3 linked regions of the Homo sapiens genome follow. The protein of the gene in region 3 interacts with the protein of the main gene of each other region in a pairwise test. Each region holds a gene or a part of one and is shown on either strand. Other genes may lie near its edges. The genes, in order: TSC22D2, MAGEB6 and F8.

Region 1 (8,041 bases), on a different chromosome or scaffold from region 3:
GGTAAGAGTAAGGAAACCTAGGAGGAAAAGCTGTGGTGGAGAGCCAGTTAGGATCAATTAAAAGATGAACAGCATGGAAAGCCAACCTGCCTTACTGTAGCATTGATACTCTGAGTTATACTTTTTCTGTGAGTGTAAGTATAATTAGCTTTAAACACTGAATTCAAGCTCATTTAGTTATTTTGGAGCAGCAATTCCAGTAAATAAATATTTTCTTGTAGGTCTTTCTTACTTTCCACAGCTCTATATTTCTGTTCATTCTCTCCATATCCACAATTTTTAATGCATCTGTAAATGCTAATAAATGTTTGATTTTTATTCTAAGAATGATTCATAGTAAATAGAAAGTTTATTTTTAAAAATTATCTTTTGACTTTATTTAGCATTTCCAGTTTACCATAATAGTTTAAAAAAGAAAATTCTGAACTCATTTTTCCCTCATGCTTCTGTAGCAGTAATTGTAACACTTGATTTAAAATTGACTTATTTCAGTTTGAGTATGTATCTATACATACACACTAATCTGAAATATTTATACTACCACCATTGTAGGGTACCGGGTATATATACTTTGTGCTGGAAGTAAAGACAGGAAGCCTTTTCTTAGGGAGCTTAAGTTTGGAAACTGGTTAAACCATCAAAATATAATGTGCTGAATATAATAATTAAAAAGAAAACAAGGTATATAGTATTATAACATTAGGTGAAGGAAGGAAATTATTGATTCTGCTTCAGTTGATCTTTCTCATTTTAAAAGAGTCAAATCTCACTATGATAACTTTGAACATAATAGAAAACATCTTGATACCCTCATTGAAACAGTATTTTTAAACCATATTCTGGGATCTTGAAATAAAATAGTCTCTTATTTGCTTAAGACTACCATATTGGTATCTCCATCGTAAATATGGCTAAAGCAGTGGTTCTCATACTTTAGTTTCTATCTGAATCGCCTAGAGAGTTTGTTAAAATAGATTACGGGGCCCCGCCCCAAGAGTAAATCTGGGGTGGGTCCAAATATTTACATTTCTAACAAGGTCTTGGTGGGTCCAAATATTTACATTTCTGACAAGTTTCCAGGTGATGCTGATGATTCTGGTTCAGGGACTACACTTTGAGAACTGATTTATCTGAACTCAAAAAATTTTAATGCCTTCCTCATATGAACCATTAATTGTTTCAAATCTATCATATCTAATTACTATCAGTATGCATTGAGTTACTATGTGCTAAGCACTGAATTCACTTATTCACAAAGATGAAGAAGTTATGGAACCTTTCTCAAAGAGCTCAATCTAATAGGATCAACAGTGGTAGTATTACAATACTCAAAGTAATCACTGTCTGTATTGAGTGCTCAGTGTGCCAAGTACTATGCATTATGTAAACTCATTTAATCCTCACAATTGGCATATAATCCTTATTTTAAATGAAAAAACTGAGGTCTAGAAAGGTTAAATAATTTCCCAGAATTCATATAGTGAGTATATGGAGGAGCCAGAATTTGCTATTCTGCCTTTTTGCACTATAAAAAGTTTGCGAAGATTGGTAGACCCCAGAAAGGATGGAGTAATTGGCTCTACCTTAGAAAATCAAACAGCATCACAGAAGAGATGGCACTGGAGCATCTTAAGGGACAGGTCTAAGATAGCCAGATGAATTGGAACTGTGAGCATTTCCAGCTGAGGGAGCAGTTTCTGCAAAGCCAAGGAAACCCGAGAGAACATATGTTCCACAGACTACAAATAGTTGTATAAGACCATAACACAATAGGCAGATGGAGTATAAGAGGAAAACAGACTGTATAAGGCAGAGGTCAAAGTCATAAAGAATTTTATATGCCAGGCTAAAAAGTTTTAAAAATAGAATTAGGCTTCTTAATTTTTCCTCCTATAACTTTCATTTGTAAGCCAGCAGTTCTCAAAGCATAGTCAGACAGTAGATTCCACATCATCTGGGAACTTGTTAGAAATGCAGATTCCTGGTTCCATGCCTACTGAATCAGAAACTCTGAGTGGGGGAGCCCAGCAACCTGAGTTTTAACAAGACCTCCAGATGATTCTGGTGCATGCTAAAGTTTGAGACCCCTGCAGTAGGTTATAGAATTCTTGAATAATAGCCTTCAAGATAGTTAAAGGTCACTATAGTGGTAGTAATTATATTTGACACTGATTTATTCTATTAGAGTACAACACCTAACAGTTGAAATATTAACACCATTTAAGGGATACATCTTCATCATGATCTATTTATACCTTGCAAACCTGTTTCTTCTGTTGTCATAAAAGAGATCTTAGGACAAGAGTTTGTTAGGTCAGCATTCAAAGAATAGCATGCTAACTATTCTTCCTTAGCTATGGGAATCATTCTAAAACTCGCTGACTGATTTTAATTATCAAAAAAAAACCCCAGTAATTTTTGTTTTTTTTACTGCTTGTTAATACATAAAACTGATGTTGTAGTTAGTATTTAAGGTGTGCTATTTAAACCAAATGTGTTGAAGGAATCAAATGATTTAAGTCATGACATGACTTAAAAGTAATTCAATCTTTCCTTGTCATGTCAATAAAAATATAGAAAGTATAATCTGGGATTCCCAAGCAAACTAATTTAAATGCCTGTCACCGTCTTTTTTGCCAAAATGTGTTCAGTATTTGTGGTGAATATGTCTGCATGGTATCTGGCACTGAAGTATATACTAAAGCGTTATGGTTGACTTAGTGGTTCTGTAGTTTATAGTTACATATAGTCATACTTTGCACAGCTCACTAAAAGCATTTAAAGCCCAGCACATATAAAGTATTTGTTAATGATCCATAAATCCTTTCTAGATATTAGATATACAAAACCTCTTTTCATCTTAGAAATAGTAGCAGCAAGAAGTGAAGGTAGTATGCTGTAATTAATGTGGTTAATGCTCAAATAAACAAACGTAGTTTCCCATGTAATGATTCAAGATTTCAAGGATTTAGAAGTGGAAAGTCCATTGAGGCATTGACATCAACCCCTTGTTTTACAGATGGGGAAACTCAGATCCAGGGAAGTTAAATAGGTGATTTGCTGATGTCCCATAGGAAGTGAATAGCAGGATATCACAGGACAGGATATTTCTGAGCCTCAATCTGATACAACATTATGGGTCCACACCATCTAAAGTAAAGTAGTTTCCAGGTATTTTAGCACTAAAATCTTAGGTGGAGTATACTTTATGAAGAATATTTAGTAACATATAAAAAATTATCTTTTCGTATTGATACAATAAGCTACAGTATCAGATTTTTCTTTACAAGAGTAATTTTTAAAAACCTAATAACTGTTTTTAGAAATAAAATTCATTAAAAAACAATAAAAGGGTATAAATTCCAGCTATTCTTACTACTTAATACATGGTAGAATATAAACCACCAAAGAGGACAATTAGCCTTCTGTGTTATTATCATACAATTGCTAAGGTGATATTTGAACTTGGAATGTGCTTACAGGCTGGATAACTTTTCAGTTATTCCCAAGAAGAACTGATCTAAACCACACATACCTTATAGGTGATTTTTGCCAGCAAGTAACCTACAGTCAAATACATGTAGGTCTGCCAGAATGTTGTTTCTTTTTGTTTTTTTTTTTTTTGTTTTTTTTTGAGATGGAGTTTTGCTCTTGTTGCCCAGGCTGGATTGCAATGGCGTGATCTCGGCTCACTGCAGCCTCTGCCTCCTGGGTTCAAGTGATTCTCTTGCCTCAGCCTCCTGAGTAGCTGATTACAGGCACCCGCCCCAAGCCTGGCTAATTTTTTTTGTATTTTTAGTAGAGATGGGTTTTCACCACGTTGGCCAGGCTGATCTGGAACTCCTGACCTCAAGTGATCCACCTTCCTTGGCCTCCCAAAGTGCTGGGATTACAAGCGTGAGCCACCACGCCCGGCTGAATGTTGAGTTTCTTGTTAACCAATCCTACCCAAAGACTTTCTGAACCATTTTTAGAAGCCATTAAGTTTTTTTTAAAAAACTAGATGTTAAAGTATAAAACTTATACCAGAAAAGTCTTACTAAGAGGAGGGACTAGAAAAAAAAAAGTCAAGCCATCATCTGAATTTTACTACAATAAGTAATTATTGGAATTTCTACATGAAAGGCAATTAGAATGTATAGTTGGTTAATGTAGAAATTTAAGAGATACGGAGAAGACACTGCCCATTTAAAATGTATCCTTTTAAAACCACTGAACAGAGAAATTCTTAATACAATTGAGAGTTAGTTTTAAAGTAGCATACATGTATTACAGGCAAATTAGAAATGTTGGCACTACAAAGGACCTGTAGAAATCATCTATTTACTGAGACTTTCATTTTAGAAATGAGAGCTTTGAGTACTGAAATTGTCAGAACAGAATAAGCTATTTTAAATTACTGTATATTTGGTTTTAAGTGAAACACAAATGTCTTTTACATTCTTTTAAGAGTTGGAAGGGAGGTTAAATTTTTTAGAATAATAACATATTCTAATTTTTTCCAGTGCATCTGGGGGAGGTGTTGTAGCCATTGACAACAAAATAGAACAAGCAATGGTAAGTAAAAGTTTACAGTTCTCCCATTTCATAGATTGTTGGTTGTATGGAACACTTAGCTTTTGTCAGTTTTAGAAAACAAATAAGTTATTTAAACCAAAGATGACCAAATCATGTTTTTTGATAATGAGATTTAGTTGAAGATGCTAGAACGTTGAGAACTTTTAGTCTAGAAATACTATTTAAGTAGATATTTCTTCCATTTGAATATCTCACATTTCATGCATTATCATTGATAAGGGCCATTGGTGAGGGGGCATACATATTTAAAGACAATATGTTCCCCAGATATTTCAGCATTGAAAATACTTTAGAGTGAAAAAGAGTATTAAAGCAAAAACAGCTGGAGGTCTGATTGAAGTAGACTGTAAGTAAGCTATAAGTAGGCCAGGCACAGTGGATTGTGTCTGTAATCCCAGCACCTGAGCTGAGGTGGGAGGATCACTTGAGGCCAGGAGTTTGAGACCAACTTGGGCAACATAGCAAGACCCCGTCTCTACAAAAAAAGTTGGTATTTTTGTTTGTTTTGAGATAGTCTCGCTCTGTCACCCAGGCTGAAGTACAGTGGCATGATTTTGGGTCACTGCAACCTCCACCTCCCAGGTTCAAGTGATTCTCCTGCCTCAGTCTCCTGAGTAGTTGGGAGCACAGGCACACACCACCACATCTGGCTAATTTTTGTATTCTTAGTAGAGACGGGGTTTCACCATGTTGGCCAAGGTGGTCTCAAACTCCTGACCTCAGGTGATCTACACGCCTCAGCCTCCCAAAGTGCTGGGATTACCGGTGTGAGACCTTACAGGACTGTTAGTCTCAAACTATTTTTTTAAAAATACCAAAATTTTAAAGTCCAAAATTACAGATCACTTTAAAGCAGTACTATGACTAGTTTAACATCAAACAGCTTTCCGTTGGAATATTGTTCCTTTGTTCTCTTTATCTACCATTTTAAGCATGTGATTTTAAACTTTTTTTTTTTTTAATTCTAAGCTTAGTTGACAATTTAAGAAGCTAGTATTTTTTGGAAATCGTCCCAAACTTTGAAAAGAAAATTCTGGGCTTACTGCTCTGGTTGGGAACTGGATTTTTTCCAACCCATCTTCCATAGGCTCGGTCAAGATAAAGCAGAAACATTAAAAGCAAGAGCAGGAAAACTAGTATAAAAACTTAGCACCAAGTAGGCCAGAACCAGATAGCACCACCTTTATCTTTTCACTCTTTTGACATTCCTAATTTTGTTTTTCACAGGATCTGGTGAAAAGCCATTTGATGTATGCAGTAAGAGAAGAAGTGGAAGTTTTAAAGGAACAAATAAAAGAATTAGTTGAAAGAAACTCTTTACTTGAACGAGAAAATGCACTGTTAAAATCTCTTTCAAGCAATGATCAATTATCCCAACTCCCAACCCAACAGGCCAATCCTGGTAGCACTTCTCAACAGCAAGCAGTGATAGCACAGCCTCCGCAGCCAACGCAACCTCCACAGCAGCCGAATGTCTCCTCAGCATAAAGCTTTCTTAAGCCTCATTAAGAAAAAAACTGAAAGCAATCTATCCTTGTGTGCCACTGGTGTTCTTTCCACTTTATACGAAAGCAAGTAGCCATGCTTTGGTTGTGTGTTTGGCCTTTTCAGTATTAGACAATCATTCTACAAGAGCTTTTCCTCTCTCTGAGATGTCATGCAGCGCTGTTGATGTCCAGTTCTATGTCATCAGTACACAAGGAGAATAATAGATGGGGTTTATTAAAGCGAGCAAAGTCTGCATTTTACCTGGTGCGCATGAGTGGGGTCTTTAAGAGTTTTGGTGGCTCTCCCATGTTTCCTATTACCCATGGATTTACCCTGAGCCTTCCTATCACATTATAAATAACAGTTCATCTAAAGAGCCACTTTTCTTTCTGATTCAGTAACATTTGCCTACATAAGTTTTCATTTATTTGTGTTTTATTTATTACAGGGCTGCTATTTTCATAATGTACATGAACAATGTCACAGAACTTTTTTAATTTTTTTGAATAATTATAAGTATCAGTAAAGGAAGTGAAAGACAGGATTGCATTTAATAGATAAAACGTTTAGGCAATAATTGAACAAAAGAATCCTGGCATATTTCTAACACTAATGGCAATTTACTTATGGTATTTATTTTCAGTAGTAAAGACCCAGCTTGAATGTAAATTTTGTATAGTGTAAGTATGAAGAACATAGTGCAACTGTACAGGTAGTCACCAGTTATTGTGATATGATAAATAATTGGGCTATTTTGATGAAGAAAACTTTGTTCATTTGTTTCTACTTTCTAAGAGAAATTGCCACGATTCCTCTGCTTTTCAACATTTCGTATGACTTTTTTTTCGGGTGGGAATAAAAAGCTGTGAAATTGTTCAACCTACTTTGTAACCAAAGAAGCAAAGCTGTGTAATGGAGTTTGGTTTTTTTTTGTTGTTTTTTTTTTTTTGTCTTTTTTTTTTTTTATAATGCACATTCTTTATGTATTTTTATTTAGTGTTTTCTCAGTCACAATTTTCTTTACTGTCTAGCATGATCTGCATGACCTATAATCTTTGAACCACTTTCGTACCTCATGTTTTTATCCAGCACTCTTATTGTAATATGTACTAGTCTGTGAACAATGTCAAATAAAAGAGAACGAACAGGTAGTTTGGTGGAGCTGAGCTAGTGTACAATACACTAGTTGTAAAAAAAAAAAAAAAAAAAAGTGAGCCATCTTTTGTTCATTTAAAATGGTGTTTTGAATTTCGTATGCAGAAAACGTTTTGTTACATTGCAGATTTTAATGTATTTAATAAATGCAACATGCAGATTAAGTGCAGTGTATACTGAGTATTTAAATTAAAATGTACATTTCATAAATACAGTTTCAAAAGAAAGCATCATTTTGTGTATACTAACACATTAAGTGTATGTCAGAAATTGATGTATAAATATATATTTTAACATTTTCTGAAATTAAACTGCAGTTTTGTTGAAATATTTGGCTCTATATGTGTTCAAAATTTGACTAGATTTGTATTTTCACAGTTCAAAATACTCCTTAAAGACCTGTTAATAATGACTTACTGATAGTTCTTAAATTTTCAAAGTAAAACAATTTAAAGAATGCAAAAATAGTGAGCAATATTTGTACTCAATATTCATATTATGTTAGTGATACTTAAGTAGGAAATCCTTGTCTACCAAAACTTTTACTTGAATTCAGAAAGGTGCCTGTAGAAATTAACATGCACTGCATCTGTAGCCAGCTAGCTAATCAGAGTTAATGAGAACCAGTAGTTAGTTCTCCGTGTTAAAAGACTTATTTGAAGTAAAAATTTAATCAGATTAGCCACAAACAAACAAGGCATAAAATTGGGATGTACATGAGATTGCCAAATATTTTCTATTCTAGTTGTGCTGCAAGACATTGAACAAAATGTTAATGAATAACATTATAAATCAAGGAACTAAGTACATAGGCTTGAGT
Region 2 (8,285 bases), about 130 Mb from region 3:
AATCAATAAAACTGAACACATCAATAGAGAAAATCAGCAAAACTAAAAGGCAGTCCTTTGATAAGATTAATAAAATTAATAAACCTCCAGTCACATTAACTAAGAAAAGAAGAGAGAAGACACAAATTGCTAATGTCAAAAATGAAAGAAAGGCCATCACTGATTATTCTATTGACATTAAACAGATAGTAAAGGAATGTTATGAAAAATTCTATGCCCACCAACTTGGTAACCTAGATGAGACAGACCAATTCCTTGAAAGACACAATCTACCAAAACTCACACAAGGAGACTGAGATCATCTTAATAGGCCTATATCTATTAAAGAAATTGAATCAATGACTGATAAGCTTCCAAAAGAGTAAACAACAGTCCCAAATGAGCTCACTGGTGAATGCTGTCAAATCTTTAGGAAGGAATGATATCAATTCTCTACAAACAAGCACAAAGATGAAAAGATGCTTTATATCATGGATCATTAGGGAACTGCAAATTAAAACAACAATCAGATATCACTACACATGTATTAGAGTGGATAAAATCCAAAACACTGACAAGACACATACTGGAGAGGATGTAGGGCATAGAATCTCTCATTCAGTAATGATGGCAGTGCAAAGATGGTACAGCCTCGTTGGAAGACAGTTTGTCAATATCTTACAAAATTAAAATACTCTCGTCATATGATTCAGCAGTTACTCTCCTTGGTATTTAGTCAAATGGGTTGAAAACTGATGTCCACACCAAAACTTGAATACAAATGTTCAAAGCAGCTTTATTCCTAATTGTCAAAACTTAGCAGAAACCAACAAGAATTAAGTGTCCCACAAGCATACAATGAAATATTGTTTAGTGATTAAACAATGTGTTATTAAGCTATGAAAAGACATGCAGGAGCCTAAATGCATATTGCTAAGTGAAAGTAGCCTATTTGAAAAGGTTACATGCTGTAGGATTCTAACTATATGACATTCTGGAAAAGGCAAAATTATGGAGACAGTTAAAAAAAGGGGGGTTCTGGGGGGATGGGGGAATAAGGGGAACACAGTGGATTTTTTTTAGTATAGTGAAACTGTTCTGTATGATACTGTTATAGTGTGTACGTGTCATTCATTTTAAAAAACCCATAAGATATATAATAGAAAGATTAAACTCTAATATAAATGGTTAACTTTAATTAATAAAAATGTATCAATATTAGCTCATCAATTTTAACAAGTATACCACATTAATGTGTGATAATAATAGGAGAAACTGTGTGTGAACCGATGAGAGGGTATAAGAGAATTCTTTGTATTTACCACCGAATTTTTCTGTAAACTTGGAAACTGCTCTACAAAATAAAGTATGCCCATTAAAACTCCATCCCTGTGTTATATATTTAGAGTAGTTTGTTTTCCTGGAATAACCCATGAATATTTGCAGTTAGCTAATTATTTGTATTGATTTTCTCATCTGAAGCTCTTTCAGCCATTAACAATTTTAAGCAGCCATTTTAAGAATGGCTGCTTAAAAAAACATCCATTCTGTCATTAGTAATTAAATTTGCTCAAGTGTCTTCTATCATTAAGTAAAATATAACACAACACAACATACCATGGCTCTTTAAACCTCCTTTAAATAATTCTCTGTTTCTGTCCTAAATAAATTTTACACTCCCTAGTTTTTGTATGCATAAACACACACACAAAATATATACATATATTTATATTTAGATATTGAAAATATTATAGAGCATTAAGAGATATATGTTCAGCTTGTAAAAAAATTGAGCTCTACACATAAAGTTCTATTAGCATAATTGTTGAAAAGTAGCCCAAGCAGTACTTATGGGGATATTTATTGCATTAAATAGATTTACTATAAAAAAGTTTGAAACATTGTAACAATTCAAGAAGCTAGAGAATGAATAGCATATTAAACACAAAGAAGAAGGTAGGAATAATGAAGATAAATTCAAAAGTGATAAATGAGAAAATAGTCAAACCAACTAGTAAAAGCCAGTTCTTTGAAAGGATTTATATAACAATGTGTATGAGTACCATCAATTACAAATGAAAAAAGCAGAAATAAATGATATTAGATAAGTAAAATTATACAAAACTTAGGTGTAGAAAAGATGTAATACTAATAGAGAACACCGTAAGTGTTATCAAGTATTATCTGTATCTCAAGATAACAAATGATGGACAAGGAGAAGGTTCTATCTGAAAAATTTCGGGTAATAAACTCAAAAGAATTTTAGAATCAGAGAATTACCATCTTGCAACCCATGATAGATTAATGGATAAAAGTGATGGCTGCCAACATCATCACAAAAGAAACAACAGAAATTATATATCTCTTAATGAAACTGCACCATATCACCTCTGGAGTGCACTTGCCAATAAACTTTAATATGAACAATATTCTACTCATAAAAATTGAAGATTATTAGTGACAAATCTTAGCTAATTGAGTTTATTATTCTATTCTCTGTACTACTGCATATATTTGAGAATTTCCATAACAGGATTTTATTATGAATATCATGCTTTTAAATATGAAAACCTAAGTAAAATGGAACAATTTTTAGCAAAATGAAAATGACTCATAAAAATACAGAACTCTTTGAATGCACAGTAGAAAATGAAACTATAGTCCAAACCCAAAGTACCTTCAAACTGTTTTAGGACCAGCCAGGTTTAGAGACCCATTACATCAAATGGTGAAGAAGAAACTAATCACCACTTCATGTAAACTCTTCCAAACAACACGAAAAGATTGGGAGAATTACTCCATCATTTTAACAAGCTTGCTTTCTTTGACACAAAGACCAGATGAAGATAGTCCAATAAAACAACATTTGAGATCAGTTCATTCACATAGAGACAAAATATTCTCAATAAATTCATAGTATATCCAATATAGGCATATCCAATATAGCAGTGAATTAATGAATAAATAGCCTGCATCCAAGAAATGCAAAGATGATACCATATTAGAAAATACCATCAATTGGAAATCACTATGTTACCAAAAATGGTGAAAAAGCATGTGATCATGTGCAGGGGTAAAGGAGAAGCCTTAAAAAACCCTCAATACCAGTGTATGATAGTAACTTTTAGCAAACTTACATTAGGAGAGAATTTCCATCTTGTAAAATCTATAATTGACATACTAAATGTGAAACATTACAAACATCCCGAATAGAGTCCAGAAGAATATACACCTGTATAGTATAAACCCTACTGCTGACAACTGGATGAAAATACATCTATAGTTCACAACTATAATAATAATACCGAGTAAATTAGAGGTAACAATAACAAAAGGAGATAATTGTGATAATATAATCTCCTAATTTAAAAATAAAACAACGTAATTGGTGCAAAAATATTTAAATGTATAAGGAAATAAAGAAAACGTGTGTACAAAAGATCACCATAGGTAAGTCAGGAGTATAGTCACACAAAATCAATAACTAATTATAATATGTAATGTGAAATATGCCTTTCACAACAGCAACAATATCCAAAATATATCTAACAGAAAACCAAATAGAAATGTACATGTTCATTAAGGAGACAGCTATAAAAATTTACTGAAAGACTTAGGAAAAATAAATCTCCAATAAAGCAGTGTACTATGTTTATTTACTGTGGAGGAGATATTGTAAAGTTATTGATTCTCCTTAAATTTTTTACAGATTCATTGCCTTAGCCATAGCTGTGAAGATGACAACCAAACCCGGGTGGTTCTTTCCCATGACCAAACTCAACCATAGAAAAGTTAAAGGAAGAATTTTTTTTTAAAAAAAAAGCAGTATTAACAACAGCAAAACAACAAAAATGCGAACCTTGAGAGATGGTCAGTTTGTATTGAACAAGAATGGGTGTGTGGGCAGGTAGGGGCATGAGCTGAAGTAGAGACAGGTCTGTGGCCTACAACAGACGCAGATAACGGAATTGGCTAGAGGAAAAGCTTTAAAACTTTGGTCTTTGCTTCTTTCACTGTGCCATTGGACAATGCATTTTTTTTTCTGCTTCACTAAAGGAAATTCAGTCAGAAACTTGGACCCTATGTGCCAGTTCCATGGGGTAATATTGCCACAGCAAAAACATCTGGGTAGGCTGAAGAAGTATGAATCCAGACACTGTGCTAATAACTACCTGAAACTTCTTTAGTGGAAGTGGACTGGCCTTTAAATTCGTATTATTTTAATATAATATAAAGAATGGACTAAATTAGGATAGCAAATATTGCAGTGAGTCACACAAGATAATGGTAGAAATTCATTCATGAAGGTGTTGAATACAGACACTGATGTCAGCCAAGAGAGAAGTCCCAGACATAGCTATCAGGCTAAGAAGTCTTCTCACTTTCTCCTTATGAATTTTACAGGATCTAGTCAGAGGAAGGGGATGAATTTACATCAGAAAATGGAGAAAACTGAGACCCTGCCAGCAGTCAATGTGAGGACCCTGAGTGAGGACTGAGGGGCTCCACATATCAGAAGAGACAAGAGTGCCCCCCAAATCTCCCTTCATTCCCCGATCTTGCATCACAACTTAATAGCAGCAGCCAGGTTTAGGAGGCCCCAGGCAGTAGTGGCCAGGTGAGGTGTAACTGAATTGCACATGAGGAGTCTCAGGAAGTTGAAGTCTAGTCTGAGAGGGTGTCCTCAAGTCAGTAGAGGGGACATGGCAAGAATGAAGCGACGACACTGAGTGAGGGCTGAGGGCAAAGTCCATTCCAAAAAGGGGGTCTCACAGAGCTCCACCCCTACTGTCAGTCTTGGAAGGTCCCGGCATGGCTCCCGAGCTCAGGCTGCACCTTACTTCCAACTCTGGACTCTCAGGGAATGAGAGCCTCTATCTCCGGTTGACTGATTCAGCTCAACAGATAGAGAAGTCCAAGGGTCCGCGAAGAGCCCCTGAAAGAACTTTACGTGAGTTCCCTGGAATCTGCTGCACCCACAGAACACAAGGGGGAGTAACAGAGCCCTGCAGCTACTGTTACGCAGGGAGCGCCAGGTGGGCGTGGCCGGAAGTGGTTCCTCTTGACTTCCACCTAATAAAGGGGTCTGAGCCGGTCGCCTGAGCCTGAAAAGTGCTGTCACGTCAGCGGAAGGAGGCGTCCCAGATCTTCTCAGCTGTCTTGGTGGGTATCCTGACCTAGAACGGGGGGCATTCCCCGACAACTTCAACCCCCTTCCCCCGAAGAAAGGCGGCTCCACAGAGCCCTGCCCCAACCTGCCCCGACCTGGTCCCTGAGGAGTCCCCAAACATGGCTGTTAGGCCCAAAGTCCATTCATTTTTTTCCGTCGTGTTGAAGAACATGAAGGCCTCGGTCCAAGGCTTGTGGACCCAGGTCAGTAGAGGGAGAAATCTCAGGCCCTACATAGTTAAGAGGACCCTCCTTAGAATTGAGGGAGGGGATTCCATGTCCCGTAACGGGTTGCACCGAACTCTGCCCTTGACGTTAGCCTGGGGGTCCGGGCAGGTCTCTAGAGACTGAGGTGCATTCTCACTTTGTCCCTGTGAGAGTCAGAGAGGTAGGCCCCTGGTTGTAAGGAGATGGCAGCAGGTCAGTGAGGGTGATTTCCAGGTTGTGGGAAGAGTCAGGGTGAGGAGTCTAATTACTGTGAGGAGCATTCTCACTATAACTGGAAGAGCACTCAAATGCCTCCGCTGTTGTCAGCCCTAGGTGGTCTGGGTGTCCCCGGAATGAAGTGTTGGGCAGAAGTGCTTCCTTATTTCCTCCGGGTTAAAATTCCTACTGTCAATTTCAGAGTGGCACAAGGAAATGGGCCTCTGGGTCTTGTCAACAATTTTTTTTTTATTATACTTTAAGTTTTAGGGTACATGTGCACAATGTGCAGGTTTGTTACATATGTATACATGTGCCATGCTGGTGTGCTGCACCCATTAACTCGTCATTTAGCACTAGGTATATCTCCTAATGCTATCCCTCCCCCCTCCCCCCACCCCACAACAGTCCTCGGAGTGTGATGTTCCCCTTCCTGTGTCCATGTGTTCTCACTGTTAACTTCCCACCTATGAGTGAGAACATGCGGTGTTTGGTTTTTTGTCCTTGCGATAGTTTGCTGAGAATGATGGTTTCCAGTTTTAATGATGATCCTGAATGTAAACAGAGAGGATCCAACCCCTGAACAGAGGGGCCCCCACTGCCAGCCCCTGCTGTCACCTCAGTAAGCCCCAAAATGGGCTGTCATGCTATAGTCTAATACTCTAACTTCCTCCTGAGTTTGAAGGAGACAAACTGACCAGGAGAAAAGGAGTCCTGTGGGTTCCTAGAGCAGCTGTTCTGCGGAAACCTGCAGAAGGGGCCCTAGTTAAAGCCAAGATGGTCGCTCTCTGCTGAAGATATTGACGTGACGTCACTCTCTCCCATCCAGGTGCCAGCCTTCCTAGTCTTCCTACCCACACTCCTACCTGCTGTCACAGGCCACAGCCATCATGCCTCGGGGTCACAAGAGTAAGCTCCGTACCTGTGAGAAACGCCAAGAGACCAATGGTCAGCCACAGGGTCTCACGGGTCCCCAGGCCACTGCAGAGAAGCAGGAAGAGTCCCACTCTTCCTCATCCTCTTCTCGCGCTTGTCTGGGTGATTGTCGTAGGTCTTCTGATGCCTCCATTCCTCAGGAGTCTCAGGGAGTGTCACCCACTGGGTCTCCTGATGCAGTTGTTTCATATTCAAAATCCGATGTGGCTGCCAACGGCCAAGATGAGAAAAGTCCAAGCACCTCCCGTGATGCCTCCGTTCCTCAGGAGTCTCAGGGAGCTTCACCCACTGGCTCTCCTGATGCAGGTGTTTCAGGCTCAAAATATGATGTGGCTGCCAACGGCCAAGATGAGAAAAGTCCAAGCACTTCCCATGATGTCTCCGTTCCTCAGGAGTCTCAGGGAGCTTCACCCACTGGCTCGCCTGATGCAGGTGTTTCAGGCTCAAAATATGATGTGGCTGCCGAGGGTGAAGATGAGGAAAGTGTAAGCGCCTCACAGAAAGCCATCATTTTTAAGCGCTTAAGCAAAGATGCTGTAAAGAAGAAGGCGTGCACGTTGGCGCAATTCCTGCAGAAGAAGTTTGAGAAGAAAGAGTCCATTTTGAAGGCAGACATGCTGAAGTGTGTCCGCAGAGAGTACAAGCCCTACTTCCCTCAGATCCTCAACAGAACCTCCCAACATTTGGTGGTGGCCTTTGGCGTTGAATTGAAAGAAATGGATTCCAGCGGCGAGTCCTACACCCTTGTCAGCAAGCTAGGCCTCCCCAGTGAAGGAATTCTGAGTGGTGATAATGCGCTGCCGAAGTCGGGTCTCCTGATGTCGCTCCTGGTTGTGATCTTCATGAACGGCAACTGTGCCACTGAAGAGGAGGTCTGGGAGTTCCTGGGTCTGTTGGGGATATATGATGGGATCCTGCATTCAATCTATGGGGATGCTCGGAAGATCATTACTGAAGATTTGGTGCAAGATAAGTACGTGGTTTACCGGCAGGTGTGCAACAGTGATCCTCCATGCTATGAGTTCCTGTGGGGTCCACGAGCCTATGCTGAAACCACCAAGATGAGAGTCCTGCGTGTTTTGGCCGACAGCAGTAACACCAGTCCCGGTTTATACCCACATCTGTATGAAGACGCTTTGATAGATGAGGTAGAGAGAGCATTGAGACTGAGAGCTTAAGGCAGGGCTGGCACTATTTCCTTGGCCAGGGTACCTTATGGGGCCATATCCTACAGATCCTCCCATTTCTAGGGAGGTCTGAAGTAGAATTTTCACTTTATGTTAGAAGAGAGTAGTGAGCTTTCTAAGTAGTGCAGTATAGTAGAGGCTGGAGGGAACAAGATATGTATCTTTCTTTTGTTACACATGAGTAACTTGCAGATTTATGTTTTATCTCTGTCAGTTATCAACATTGTTCCTGTTAAGTGAAGGTTTATTTTGCTTCAGATTATACAATTATCAATAACATAGCTCTCACATTCATGGCTGTTTAACCAATCTGAAAGTTACGGTTTGGGAATTAATAAAACAAAGTCATACAACACATTTTCTTTGTAATTGAGAACTAGATAACATGGTAACAGAGAATTGATTTTCATATGAATCTTAACTCCACAGTAAAATAGTTGACATCATAATATGAAGAGAAAGAAAAGGAAAAACAGAAATGTAAAAGTTGTTTAATTCTTGGTTTGCCTAATTCGTTTTCCTATTTCTTTTCATACAAATAAAGGATACCTGGATTTATTTAGGTTATTAAGACTGCCGTTAGTTTGTTTT
Region 3 (8,041 bases):
CTTTTGTCATATGGCATGAGAGAGGGATTTGTCTAGTTTTATTTCCATCCAGATCAATAGCCTATTGTGATGGCACCTTTTGCCACTGATTTGAATCAACACATTCATCATATAAAGTTCTCATATATATTAGCATATATTTCTGGATTCATTAGGCTGTTTCACTAATCTACTATTATCTTGCTATGCCAGTACCATAGTGATTTGATTACAGTGAGCCTATGATATCTTCTGATATCTGGTGGGTGAAAGCAATCCTCACTATTCTTTTTGTACCTTTCTTAGCTATTCTTAGACACTTTATTCTTCCACATAAAACTGTTAAGATATTTTTCAAATTAAAAAGATCCAAGCCCTGTTGTGATTCTAACTGCAATTTCATTAAACTCAGACCTTAATTTTATTAATGTAATAAATTTAAATATTTTTCTTATTACATTTATCTCTGTGTATTTTATAAGTGTGATGCTATTGTTAATAAGATAGTTTTCTCCTATTTCCATTTATGAGTGCTTAGTACCAAATAGAGATAAGCTATTGGTTTGTGTATTTTCAGCTTTTTCTTTTGAGCCTGGGTCTCATTTTGTCACCCAGGCTGGAGTGCAGTGGGGTGATCTCACCTTACTGCAGCCTCAACCTCCTGGATTCAAGCAATTCTCCTGTATATCAGCCCCCCAAGTAGCTGGGACTACAGGAGCAGGCCACCATGCCCGGAAAATTTTTGTATATTTTTTAGAGATGGGTTTTTGCCATGTTACCCAGGCTGGTTTTCAACTCCTGAGCTCAAGCATTCCCCCCACCTCAGCCTCCCAAAGAGCTAGGATTACAGGTTTGAGCCACCGCACCCAGCCATTGTATATTCATCTTAAATCTAGCTACCTTACCAAATTTGCCTATTAATTCTAGTAATTTTACCCTAAAGTCTCTGTGAGTATTGAATCATATCATAAGTTAAATGAGACAGATTTTAGCTCATTTCCAATATTTATAGCCAGTTATTTCATTTTCTTATCTTATTGAATTTATTAGAAAACAAGAGCAAATGTTAAATAATAACAATGAAAGTGAACATTCCTTCTACTCTATGATTTTACTTGAAATAATTTTTGTATTTTGCTATTTAGAGTAACATTTGCTGTTTTGGTTTTTGTAAATGGTGTTTATTCTATTCTCATTTGCCACAAAATGTTTATCATAAATAAGTTTTCAGCAGCTGGTATCATCTGAATTGTCTTCTTTGATATGCTGATGAACAAATTATGTTCATAGATGTCCTGACACTAAATACCCTTACATTCTTGGAGTAAAATCTACTATTCATGGAATTTGATCATTAGTGGGTTCTATGTACTATTTCTTTAGACTATTCTTAGTAGATTTTCACTACTCAACCTACTAATAATAATAAACAAAGTTTTGTTGGCTTTATCAAATGAATTGATGAGTACTCCATCTTTTTCTATTGCTTAGAATAGCTTAAGTAACATTTGAATTATCCATTGTCTAAAAGTTAGGTGAGACTCACTTATGAATCCATTTGGTCCTAGTGGCATTTGCAATATCTTTAATCACCCCTCCAGGCTCTTCTATGATAATCAGTCAATTCAAGTTTCAACTTCCAATAATTATATACCTTTCTAGGAAGTAACTTTATTTATTTTTTCAATTTTGTTGCCACAGTGTTGCATGTAGCACTCACTCATGATTCTTTTACTCCACATTATCTGTAGTTATGTGCCCTTTCTTATTCCTAAATTCCTCTATCTTTGCTATTTATCTTTTTTTCCTTGAATAAGCTTGCCAATGACTTGTCTATTTTGTTGCTGGTGGTGCTCTTTTCAAAGAATGGGCTTTTGGATTTTTTTTTTTTCTAGTTGGTATAAAGCATTTTTATTTTCACTGAGCAGAAAAAGAAGCTATTGATTCATTAACTGTGCTGCTTTATTGGCATGTAGCTATGCACTGTTCACACATTAATATATAAAACTCGTCAGTCTGTTTTATTTTGTCTGATGGGAAAACATGAACAGTGAGATTTCTTATGCAAAAAGTGAACAGTTCAACTATGCTAGCTCCATATACCTTTATTAACATTCCAGAGACTTATCCTCTCAACATGATCTGATTTCTGTAGGATAACTTTTCAGGAAAAGTATTTTCTGATCAGTGAAGCTTGGAGATATAAATAAGCAATCGGCCAGGTATGGTGGTTCATGCCTGTAATCCCAGCACTTTGGGAGGCCGAGGCAGGCAGATCACCTGAGGTCAGGAGTTTGACACCAGCCTAGCCAACATGGCAAAACTCCGTGTCTACCAAAAAAAAAAAAAAAATTAGCTGGGCATGGTGGTGCTCACCTGTAATCCCAGCTACTGAGGAGGCTGAGGCAGGAGAATTGCTTGAACCTAGGAGGCGGAGGTGGCAGTGAGCTAAGATTGTGCTCAGCCTAGGTGACAGAGTGAGACTCCATTTCAAAAAATAAAAAAATAAAAAAAAGCAGTATCTCTCATATTCATTAACTGGACCCTGACTTTCTTAAAGCTCACCCCAAAGCTGAAGTCCATGAAGGCACTAGTTCTCAAACTTCAGTGTGCATAAGAATCACTCGGGAAGCTTATTAAAATTTACATTCCTAGGCCCCATCCTCAGCAAACTATTTAGTCCCCAGGTAATTCTATCCCACCCCACCCCAGCTTTATTGTGGTATAATTGACAAATAAAAGTTGTATATATTTAAGGTGTACAAGATAATGTTTTGATGTAAGTATACATTGTAAAATGGTATAGCATGAAGGGTTTTCTTTTCATTTTTTTCAGAATAGTTTGTAATATCTTCTTTGATTTCATCTTTGATAATCTAGACGTATGATTTTAATTGCTTTTTAAATTTGTTTATCAAGTTAGTTTGTAGTATTTGGGTCAACATTGAATATCCTGTTAATTTCCTATTGCTGTGTAACAAACTACATCAAATGTATCAGCTTATGACAGACCCATTTACTGTCTCACAGTTTCTGTGAGTTAGAAGTCCAGGTGGACTCAGCTGGATACTCTGTGCAGGGTCATACAAGGCCAACACCAAGGTTTTAATAGGGCTGCACTCCTTAGTGAAAGCTCTTGGGGAGAATCTGCTTACAGGCTCATTTGGAATGTTAGCAAATTCAGTTCCTTCTCTCACTTTCCATGTAGTGCCCTCTACCAGCAATGGTGCATCAACACTCTCTCATGCTTGGAATTGCTCTGACTTCAATTTTCCGTGCATATCTCTGGCCTTTTTTGCCTCTCTCTTTTACTTTTAAGGACTCATGTGATTACATTGGGCCGACCTGGGTAATTCAGAATACTCTCCCCATCTCAAGGTCAGCTAATCAGCCCCTTAATTCCATCTGCAAAGTTTAATTTGCCACATAATATATTTTTGGACATGACACCAAGGAGCAAAGGTGATGTGGGCCAAATTTTTACCTGCCACAGGTATAGTTTACATACAATGAAGCTCATCAATTTTAAATATGCAGTTTGATGAGTTTTGACAAATGCATACACTTGCATAACCACCACCCTAATCAACATGCATTTACATCAACCCTCCTGCAACTTTTTAATGAGTCTCTCCCACTGACCTGGCCTCAGCCAATAAACTGCTATCTGGAAGTTACAGATTTGTTTTCACATGTTCTAGAATTTTACATCAGTGGAATCATACGGTATGTATTCTTCTATGGCTTTTTTTCTTCAGCATCATGATTTGGAAATTCATGCAGGTTGTTGTATAAAGTATTTCTATCCTTTTTATTGCTGATTACTGCTCCATTATGGGATTATATCATAATTTTGGATTATTTCCAGTTAGGAGCAAATACAAATAAACCTGCTATGAACAGTGCTCCACATGTTTTGTGTGAACATCTATTTTCATTTATCTTAGTTAAATATCTAGGAGTGGAATTGCTGGATCATATGGTAAGTGCATGTTTAAGAGAAACTGCCAGACAGATTTCTTGAACGTACCATTCTATACTCCCACCAGCAATGCATGAGAGTTCCAGTTGCAATATATCCTGGACAACATTTGATGTTGCCAGTACTTAATGACTGCACAGTGGTATCTCACTATACTTTTTTTTTTTTTTGAGATGGAATCTCATCCCATCACACAGGCTGGAGTGCAGTGGCGCAATCTCAGCTCAACATCTGCCTCCTAGGCTCAAGCAATTCTCATGCCTCAGCCTCCTGAGTAGCTAGGACTATGGTCACACGCCACCGTGCCCAGCTAATTTTTGTATTTTTGGTAGAGACGGGGTTTTGCCATGTTGGCCAGGCTGGTCTCAAACTCCTGGCCTCAAGTGATCCACCCGCCTCGGCCTCCCAAAATGTTGGGATTACGGCTTGAGCCACTGCACCTGGTTATACTTTTAATTTGCGTGTCTCTGATGACTAAAGATGTTGAGCATCTTTGCATGTGCTAATTAGCCATTCCTATATCTTCTTGGAAGTGTCTATTCAAATCATTGGTCCTTTGTTTTTAAACGTAGTTTCAACTTTTATTTTAGACTGAGGAGGTACATGTGCAGGTTTGTTACATGAGTATGTTGCATGGTGCTGAAGTTTGGGTTACGAATGAATGATCCTGTCACTGAAGTAGTGAACATAGTACCCAATAGGTGGTTTTTCACTCCTTGCTACCCTTCCTCCTCCCTCTTTCCTCTAGTCGTCTCCAGTGTCTATTATTCTATGTCCATGTGTTCTCATCATTTAGCTCCCACTTCTAAGTGAGAACATATGGTATTTGGTTTTCAGTTCCTGTGTTAATTCACTTAGGATAATGGTTTGCCAGTTTTTAATTGGGTTGTTTGTCTTGTTATTGTTGAGTTTTGATAATTTTTTATATATTCTGGGTACAAGACTATTCAGAGGTACCTGTTTTGAATGTTTTTTTCCAATCTATGGCTTGCATTTTCATTTTCCAAATGGTGTCTTTCAAATAGTGGAAATTTATAGTTGTAGTTAAGTCCAATTTAGCTTTTCTTCTTCTATGATTCATGCTTTTTTTTCCCCTGTCCTAGGAAATCTTTGCCCACCTCAAGTTCACAAAGCCTTTCTTCTGTTTTCTTCTAGAACTTTTATCATTTTAGCATTAGTATTTAGGTTTATAATACATTTTGAGTTAAATTTTCTGTATGGTGTGACTTTTCTTTCTCTATTGAATTCCCTTGGTGCCTTTGTAGAAAATTAAATGACTGTATATAGGCAAATCTGTTTATGGATTCTCTAGTTCCATAGATGTGTATATCTGTGCTTATGCCAGTACCAGATTGTTTTGATTGTTGTAACTTTATAGTAAGTCTTAATATCAGGCAGTCTAAAACCTCCAACTTACTTTTTTATTGAAATTGCTTTTGATATATTTAGGCTTTTATATTTCTGTATTAATTTTATAGTCAACTAGCCAACTCCACCAAATAGCCAACTGGGATTTTGACTGGAATTGAATTGAATCTGTAGATCAATTTGGGGAGAATTGACATTTAAACAATACTGAATCTTTCAATACAACAACATGGTATGGCTTTGTTTCTTTAAATTTTCTTTAATTTCCCTCTAGGATATTTTGTAGCCTACAGAGTAGTTCTTGCAAGAATTATATTAATTGTATCCCCAAGTATTTTGAGGGATTCGATGCTATTGTTAATTGTATCATTTTTATTTGTTTTCGTTTTCCAATCATTTGTTACTAAAATATAGAAATTCAATTGATTTTTGTATATTGACCTTGTTCACTCTAATCTTGTTAATTTGCATTTTAGCTCTAGTAGCGTTTTGCACTTCTTTTAGAATTTCTACATATACAATAATGTTGTCTGCAAATAAAGACAGTTTGCTTCTTCCTTTCCAAACTGGATGCTTTTTATTTTTTTTTTCATGCCTTACTGTACTGGCAAGGGCCTCCAGTACAATGTTAGATAGAACTGATGATAGCAGAATCCTTGTCTTCTTCCTGATTTCAGAGGGAAAATATTCATTATTTTACCATTAAGTACAATTACTTGTAAATTTTTTCATAGATGCCCTTTGTCAAATTGAGGAAGTTTCCTTCTATTCTTGGTGTGAGAGTTTTTATCAAGATTTGATATTAGATTTTGTCAAATGCTTTTTCTGCATCTATTCAAATGGTCATATGGTTTATCTTGTTTATTCTGTTATGGTGAATTACCTTGATTGATTTTTTAATGAGGAACTAGCTATGTATTCCCAGGGAAAAAATCCACCTGGTTGTGACATATTACATTGGTAATATTTTCGCTATGGACTGAATTGTCTCCACCTCCCCCCACCCCAAATTCATATGTTGAAGTCCTAACTCTCAAGATGATTATATTTGGAGATAGGGCTTTTAGGAGGTAAACAAGGTTAAATGAGGCCATAAGGATGGAGTCCTAATCTGATAGGACTGGTGGCCTCATAAGAAGAGAGAAGGTTCTCTCTCTACACTCATGCACTGAGGAAAAGCCATGTGAACATACAGCGAGAAGGCAGCCATCTACCAGCTGGGAAGAGGGCTCCACTAGAAACTGACCGTGCTGGCACCCTGATATTGGATTTCCAGCCTCCGGAACTGTGAGAAAATAAGTTTCTGTTGTTTAAGTCACCCAATCTCTAGTATTTTGTTATGGCAGCCCTGGCCAACTAAAACTGTTTTGTTAAGGGTTTTGGTGGTGATGGTGGTTTTTTAGTTTTTGCGTCTGTGTTCATGATGGATATTTGGCTGTGATTTTCTTATAATGTCATTGTCTGGTTTTGATATAAGAGTGGTATTAGTCCGTTCTAATGCTGCTATGAGGACATACCCGAGACTGGGTAATTTATAAAGGAAAGAGATTTAATGGACTCACAGTTCCACATGGCTGGGGAGGCCTCACAATCATGGTGGAAGGCAAAGGAGGAGCAAAGACACATCTTATATGGCATGGTGGCAGACAAGAGAGCATTGTACAGGAGAACTGCCCTTTATAAAACCATCAGCCCTCATGAGACTTATTCACTATAATGTGAACAGCATGGGAAAACCCCACTGCCATGATTCAATTACCTCCCACCTGGTCCCTCTCACAGCACATGGGGATTGTGGGAGCTACAATTCAAGATGAGATTTAGGTGGGGACACAGCCAAACCATATCAAAGAGTAAGACTATTCTTTTTTTTTTTTTTTTTTTTTTTGAGACGGAGTCTCGCTCTGTCACCCAGGCTGGAGTGCAGTGGTGCGATCTCGGCTCACTGCAAGCTCCGCCTCCCGGGTTCACGCCATTCTCCTGCCTCAGCCTCCCGAGTAGCTGGGACGACAGGCGCCCGCCACCACGCCTGGCTAATTTTTTATACTGATAGTAGAGACGGGGTTTCACCGTGTTAGCCAGGATAGTCTCGATCTCCTGACCTCATGATCCGCCCACCTCGGCCTCCCAAAGTGCTGGGATTACAAGCGTGAGCCACCGCGCCCGGCTGACTATTCTTATAAAATGAGTTGAGACGTGTTCACTCTTCTATTTAATGAAAGAGTTTGTGTAGAATTGGTATCATTTCTTTTTTAAATGTTTATTCACCAGGGAAATCATCTTATCCCAGTGTTTTTTGTTTTGGTTTGGTTTTTTTTTTAAGGGTCTTAATTGTGAATTCTATTTTTAATAGGTAAAGGGCTATTTGAATTTTCTATTTCTTATAGGATAAATTTTAATAATTTCTTTTAAGAAATTCCATTTGAGACTGGGCATGGTGGCTCACACCTGTAACCCCAACACTTTGGGAGGAGGCAGCAGGATTGCTCTAGGCCAGGAGTTTGAGATCAGCCTGGGCAACATAACAAGACTTGACTTCTACAGAATTTTTTTTCATTAGCCAAGTGTGGTAACATATGCCTGTAGTCCCAGCTACTTGGAAGGCTGAGGCAGGAGGATCACTTGAGCCCAAGAGTTCAAGGCTGCAATTAACTATGGATCATGCTACTGCACTCCAGCCTGAGCAACAAAGCAAGGCTCTGTCTCAAAAAA

The links.
Region 1: the proteins of F8 (region 3) and TSC22D2 interact in a two-hybrid assay, tested with the Homo sapiens proteins (one study listed by BioGRID).
Region 2: the proteins of F8 (region 3) and MAGEB6 interact in binary tests that used the Homo sapiens proteins (3 or more experiments, as listed by UniProt).

The regions. Positions count from the first base shown.
Region 1 is NC_000003.12:150,452,571-150,460,611, forward strand, and holds part of TSC22D2 (TSC22 domain family protein 2), read left to right. Parts: intron 1-4,505; coding exon 4,506-4,557; exon of another isoform or gene 4,558-4,562; intron 4,563-5,805; coding exon 5,806-6,066; 3' UTR 6,067-8,041. UniProt on the Homo sapiens protein: Reduces the level of nuclear PKM isoform M2 which results in repression of cyclin CCND1 transcription and reduced cell growth.
Region 2 is NC_000023.11:26,187,386-26,195,670, forward strand, and holds MAGEB6 (melanoma-associated antigen B6), read left to right. Parts: upstream 1-5,054; 5' UTR 5,055-5,142; intron 5,143-6,400; 5' UTR 6,401-6,461; coding exon 6,462-7,685; 3' UTR 7,686-8,261; downstream 8,262-8,285.
Region 3 is NC_000023.11:155,012,322-155,020,362, reverse strand, and holds part of F8 (coagulation factor VIII isoform a preproprotein), read left to right. Parts: intron 1-8,041. UniProt on the Homo sapiens protein: Factor VIII, along with calcium and phospholipid, acts as a cofactor for F9/factor IXa when it converts F10/factor X to the activated form, factor Xa.